Regions from separate parts of the Homo sapiens genome. Here region 2 is linked to region 1. Evidence: fine-mapped expression QTL. Tissue or cell type: whole blood. Region 1 holds a variant in brackets; the other region holds the start of a gene. All regions are shown on one strand. Distances are between the middles of the regions. Region 1 overlaps USP22 (ubiquitin specific peptidase 22). Region 2 holds the start of USP22 (ubiquitin specific peptidase 22).

Evidence for each region.
Region 2: USP22 starts here. The variant in region 1 is fine-mapped to the expression of USP22 in whole blood (TOPMed, PIP above 0.99).

The regions. Positions count from the first base shown.
Region 1 is chr17:21,021,345-21,024,252 of GRCh38, forward strand. The region is part of intron 2 of USP22 (ubiquitin specific peptidase 22); the gene reads right to left. Among named protein-coding and RNA genes, the nearest start is that of USP22, 20 kb to the right of the region's middle. The variant G/A (reference allele first, on the strand shown) is at 1,637.
Region 2 is chr17:21,041,566-21,044,473 of GRCh38, forward strand. It overlaps USP22 (ubiquitin specific peptidase 22), which reads right to left and starts at 1,446. Exons shown (of 13, transcript NM_015276.2): 1 at 1,100-1,446. The coding sequence starts at 1,270. RefSeq lists a silencer at 1,132-1,731 and enhancers at 1,267-2,216, 2,217-2,908.

The DNA of each region.
Region 1 (2,908 bases):
TATTCACAAGCAGGGAAGCCAGTCCAGCGGAGTCTCCTATCCTGAGCAGGTGAGGGGCATGCACTGTGTTTGGCAGCTCATGCCCAGGGCTGAGGTGTCTTAAAAAACAGAGGCGACCCATACATACTTTTCAAAGCAGCCAATACTCCAGGATCAGGACCTCTGCCACCTTCTCTGAATGCGTGGTATTTAAAACTGGTACAACTGCATTGGATATTTTCAGTCCTGGCCACCTGACACGGAGTGACTATGCTTCCCTCCATCTAGAATTCCTGACACCATCACCATAAAGAATGTGGCAGCAACTTGCTGTGACTTTTGTGGTTGGCGGCATTTGCTACTCTTACCTTAAGTACAGGGGGAAAATAGTTTCTCATCGGATGACTTTGATTGACATCTTGACCCAGAGCTGCCTGAAGGTGGGTCTTCTACCACAATTTCTCAACTGCATCTTCTAAAAAATGGGACTAATAGGCCAGGAGCTGTGACTTATGCCTGTTACCCCAGCACTTTGGGAAGCCGATGTAGGCAGATCATTTGAGGCCAGGAGTTCAAGACCAGCCTGGTCAACATGGTGAAACCCCATCTCTACTAAAGTACAAAAAATTAGCCAGGCATGGTGGCACACGCCTGTAACCCCAGCTATTCGGGGAGCTGAGGCGTGAGAACAGCTGAAACCTGGGAAGGGGAGGTTGCAGTGTGCCAAGATCTTGCCACTGCACTCCAGCCTGGGCAACAGAGTGAGACTCTGTCTCAAAAAATAAAAATAAAAATAAAAAAATTATAGTAATACTAGTATATTCTTTTCACAAATAAGAAGAGATACATATGTATGTATAAATTTCAATTTTCTAAAACAGTCACAAGAAACTGTTCACAGTCGTTTCCTTTGGGGAGAAGTATACATTTTCGTGTCGTTTGAACTTTCTAATCGTGTGCATGTCCAGTTTTTAATTGTCAACATAAACCTTTATTTTATGGAAATAAGATCCACTTTTGCTTTCTTTGTTAAAAGTAATAATTTGTAAAAAGTCAAAAAAATAAAATAAAATAAAATAGGACTAATAGTTTGGGCTCTTAATTATTTTATCATAAAAGTAAGTAAGATAAAGTCCTCTGAGTGCCTGAAAAAAGGTACTCTCTCCATTCAACAATTTATAAACAACTGGGGTTAACCGGGTGTGGTGGTTCACGCCTGTAATCCCAGCACTTTGGGAGGCCGAGGCAGGCAGATCACGAGGTCAGGAGATTGAGACCATCCTGGCTAACATGGTGAAACCCCGTCTCTACTAAAAGTACAAAAAATTAGCCAGGCATGGTGGCAGGCACCTATAGTCCCAGCTACTCAGGAGGCTGAGGCAGGAGAATGGCGTGAACCTGGGAGGCGGAGCTTGCTATGAGCTGAGATCTCACCACTGCACTCCAGCCTGGGCAACAGAGCGAGACTCCGTCTCAAAAAAAAAAAAAAACCAAATGAACCAGGATTACCTACCCAAAGGAAGGTAAATGGCTCTACCATAAAGACACATGCATGCGTGTGTTCATCGCAGCACTATTCACAATAGCAAAGACATGAGATCAACCTAAATGCTCACCAATGGTGGACTGGATAAAGAAAATGTACATATATACCATG[G/A]GATACCATGTATACATAAAATGAAATGAGATCATGTCGTTTGCAGGAACATGGATGGAGCTGGAGGTCATTATCCTTAGAAAACTAACATAGGAACAGAAAAACCAAATACCACATGTTCTCACTTATAAGTGGGAGCTAAACCATTAGAACACATGGACACAAGAGGAGAACAACAGACACTGCGGCCTACTTGAGGGTGGAGAGTGGGAGAAGGGAGAGGATCAGGAAAAACAAACAAAAAAAATTGTCAGGTACTACAGTACATACCCAGGTGAGGGAATAAACTGTACACCAAACCACTGAATAATACGTTTATATAACAAACCTGCACATGTACCGTTGAAACTAAAATAAAAGTTAAAATATTTTTTAAAAAACTGGGAGAGAAACCCGGCGTGGTGGCTCACACCTGTAATCCCAGCACTTTGGGAGGCTGAGGTGAGTGGATCACTTGAGCTCAGGAGTTCCAGGACCAGCCTAGGCAACATGGTGAACCCCCATCTCTACAAAAATTAGCCGGGTGTGGTGGTGTGTGTCTAAGGTCCCAGCTACTCAAGAGGCTTAGGTGGAAGGATGGCTTGAGCCCGGAAGGCAGAGGCTGCAGTGAGCCAAGACTGCACCACTGCACTCCAGCCTGGGCGAGAGTGCCAGACTATGTCTCAAAAAAAAAAAAAAAAAAAAAATTGGGAGAGTGGGGCTTAAATCCACGTGATGTCAGACACCCGGGAGGCAGCGAAGCACAGAGGAAAGACCATGGATTGAGAGTAACTGGCACCAGCCCTCACTATGCCACCTGCCAGCTGTGCACCTTTCATCAATTACTCCACACCTCTGAGCCTCAGTTTCCCCTGCGGTAAGATGCTGATAGCAACGGTACTAGTGCTTCCCAGAGCTGTGTGATGATTAGGTTAGTATATAACTTAAGTGCATCCCCGGATAAACAGGGAAGTCTTGGAACACCACAGTTTTATTCTATTTCAGGTCTTAAGCTACTACGACTTATATTGTGGTAAATCTTTGAAGTCTTCCAAAGCAGATCTGTTGAAACTCAAAACAGCAGTTTAAGATTCCCAGGGCTACCTTCTGCCCTACTCAAAAAATTCACAAAATGCCAACAACGATGTTAAAATCCTGGTGGGAGCTGTCGCAGAGCTCAGCCATCAACCTTTGCCACTTCCTGTTCATCAGCAGTACAGCCCCAGCACATGGACGTCACAGAGAAATCCTGACAGAGACAAGTTTACAATAAGGGTGATGAGAATTTACAGT
Region 2 (2,908 bases), 20 kb after region 1:
CCAGCCTGGGGTACAAAGCGAGACTTCGTCTCAAAAAAATAATTTTTTTTTTGAATTACTGCTTAACATACCCTACAATCTCAGCGAGCCTGTTGGTATTCCCATAAATAAAAAAATGCCACTCAAGGTGGAAACTGCCCTCACAACTCCCAATCTCGGATTGTAATCTACAAAAGCGCGTGAAACTGTAAAAATAAACTTTATTCACATAGAAGAATCACGTTACGTTTTGATTTCCAAACCCTTACCAAGCCTAACTGCGGGACGCAAGACTGGGCTCCCCGAGGGGACTCACTCCTGGTTAAGGCCTCCCACAGCCCACGGCGCGCTTCCAAGTCTACTCCTCAGCCGCAACGCAAACCCGGGCTGTGGCTCCGCACCCACAGGCTCGCCCCGGCCCCAGCCCCTGCCGCCCTCCACCTCCAGCTCCTCGCGGGCCCCGAGGCAGCCGCGAAGCTCCGGCCCCGCGCCCCCCAGCCCGCCTCCTGCCCCAGCTCCCGTCCAAGGTCGCTCCTGGCGGCGGGTGACCGCTGCAGACCAACGCCCAGAACTCGACAGCCCCCCATCCTTTACTCATTTTTTTGAAATATTTCTTTCTCTGCACCCGCATCCAGCCCCGAACCCTCCAGAACCAGGAGAGTTCCCCGCAAGGACCTCGCGCAGGAACGCCCGGGACCGCCCACCGAAGTCCCAGGCTCCCCAGGCAGCAGGGCAGGAGAACACCACCCCCGGCCCGGAAGCACTCGCCCCTCCCGGGCCAAGAAGGATAAGGGAGGGGGAGGGCGGAGAGAAAGGAGGGGGAGGGGACAGAGAGGAGGGGGAGGGGACAGAGAGGAGGGGGAGGGAAAGGAAGAATGGGGGAAGGGGGGAGAGGGGAAGGATAGGAAGATGAGGAGATAAGGGAAGGGAGAGAGTTGAGGGGGGAAGGAAAGGAGGGGGAAGGGGTAAAGAGAAGAGAGGGCAGAAGGAGAGAGGAAGAGGAAGGACAGGGAAAGGCAACGGGGGAAGGGAAGAGGGCAGGAAAAGGGCCCCTCCGCCGGCCGGCCTCAGGAGCGGCAGAAGGCCCCGAGCCCGCCGCGCGGTGGGCTGCCGGGCGCACCTTGCGCTTGCGGGCCTCAGCCGTGCCGCTCCACACGAAGCACTGGTAGATGGCCCGCAGGTTCTGCTTCCAGTTGTCCACCTTGAAGCTGCCCAGGTGCGAGCAGCCCGGCGGCGCTACCGCCAGCTCGGCGTCCATGGCCTCGCCCTCGGGCTCTGGCCGGGACACCATGGGGGGCAAGGCCCGGCCGCGCGCGGGGGGCGGCGGCGAGGGAGGCGAGGACGACGCCAGCGCGGCGTGGGGGCTGCTCGGCGGCTGGCCAGGCTGGCCAAGGCCCGGGCGCCGAGAACAAAGCGCGGAGGCCGGACAAAGATGGGGCTGCGCGATCGCCGAGGGGAGGCTGCAAGGCAGGCACCGCCCCCGAGCTGCGGCTGCTGCGGACCGCCTGCGCTGCGCTCTCGCGGTTCGCGGAGGGTGTCGCGGGGCGGGGCGCCGCGGCCGCGGACGGAGATTACGTCACCCCCCCCCCCCCTCCCGGCCGGCACCGCACTGCGCAGTCTCCAGCCCGCGCCAGGCCCTTCCCCCACACTCGCGCGCCCGTTAGGCTCTGGGTAGACCCGCGCCCGAGGAAGCGTGGTAGGGGGGGGAAGCTAACGAGGGCCCGCCCCTCCCCTTCCTTTATTGGTAGTAGGCCACCCCCCCCCCCCCCCCGGCACCTTCGGCTATTGTCATAGGCTCTCAGTATAGTCCGTCTGGTACAGAGCCGCCTCCCGGGACCCTGGCGGCTAGACGTTCCCTGTCTCTTCCAGAGGACTGGGGAGGCGGGGGCGTGCTGCGGTTGGGCGGCGCGAGACGTCAGTCCTAGCACTGAACCGGTTTGCGCCGGCCTGAGCTCTGCCGCAAAGAGGCGGGGCGATGAGCTGGAGCGCCGCAGGTCGGGCCTCCATCCAGGGCCTGCGCTTTCCCACCCAAAAGCACCCCCTAATCGGGAGCTGTTTGCAGGGCCCCCGGTTGCCGTAACCTGGCTCGGGCCCTGCAGTGCCGTGGCCCGGGGCTGGAACTGCCTGCCAACTGCCTGGTAGGCGCTGCCCCCGGCCGCAAGCTGGGGCGCCTCCTGTCGGGAGCCCGCTGATAGTGAGGGCCAACCCGGCGCCATCCAGTTTAAAGAGGCATCTGCGCGCCACACGCCTGACACTTCACATTTGCTAGTGGCTACATTTTTCTAATGAAAAAAGAAAGTTACAGTAATATATCTCAACCCAATAAAGTCAAATTATTTCAGCATGTAGGCAGTATTGCAAAATCGTTAGTGGAATGTTTTACAGTTTTTGCAGCAAGTCTTGGAAATCTGGTATTTACACTTAAAGCACATCCAATTCCTACTAGCTGCTACCGCAGTGGGCGGCACAGGTCTAATCGGTATACAAATAACTGACCCAAGGCAAACTGAGAAGACATTTAAAGACGAATGCAAACGAAGTTCTGGGGGAACCAGGGCGCCAAGGGTCTGGGGGAACTTGGATAAGGTGTCAGGTGTGGAGCTGCTCCCCTGTACTCATCCCGCTGCTAACTGCTTTGCTCATTCATTCATCCACAGATTGCAGGAAACAGCAATTGCCGTCCAGAACCATCACAAGTTAAAAAATAAAGATTGTGATCTCACAACACTTAAAGCTACAGGGTTTAATGGACTGACGACTGGGATAAAGCTTTTGTGGCCAAGACAAATTGCCGAGCACAGGTTTTTGCCTCATGGCCTTCGTGCTTGCAGTACCCTCTCCCTAAAATGCTTTCCCTACCCCCTCACCCTCTGCATCCTTATATTCCATGTCTGATGCTCGCTCACCTCCTTCCAGCTTTATCACACAC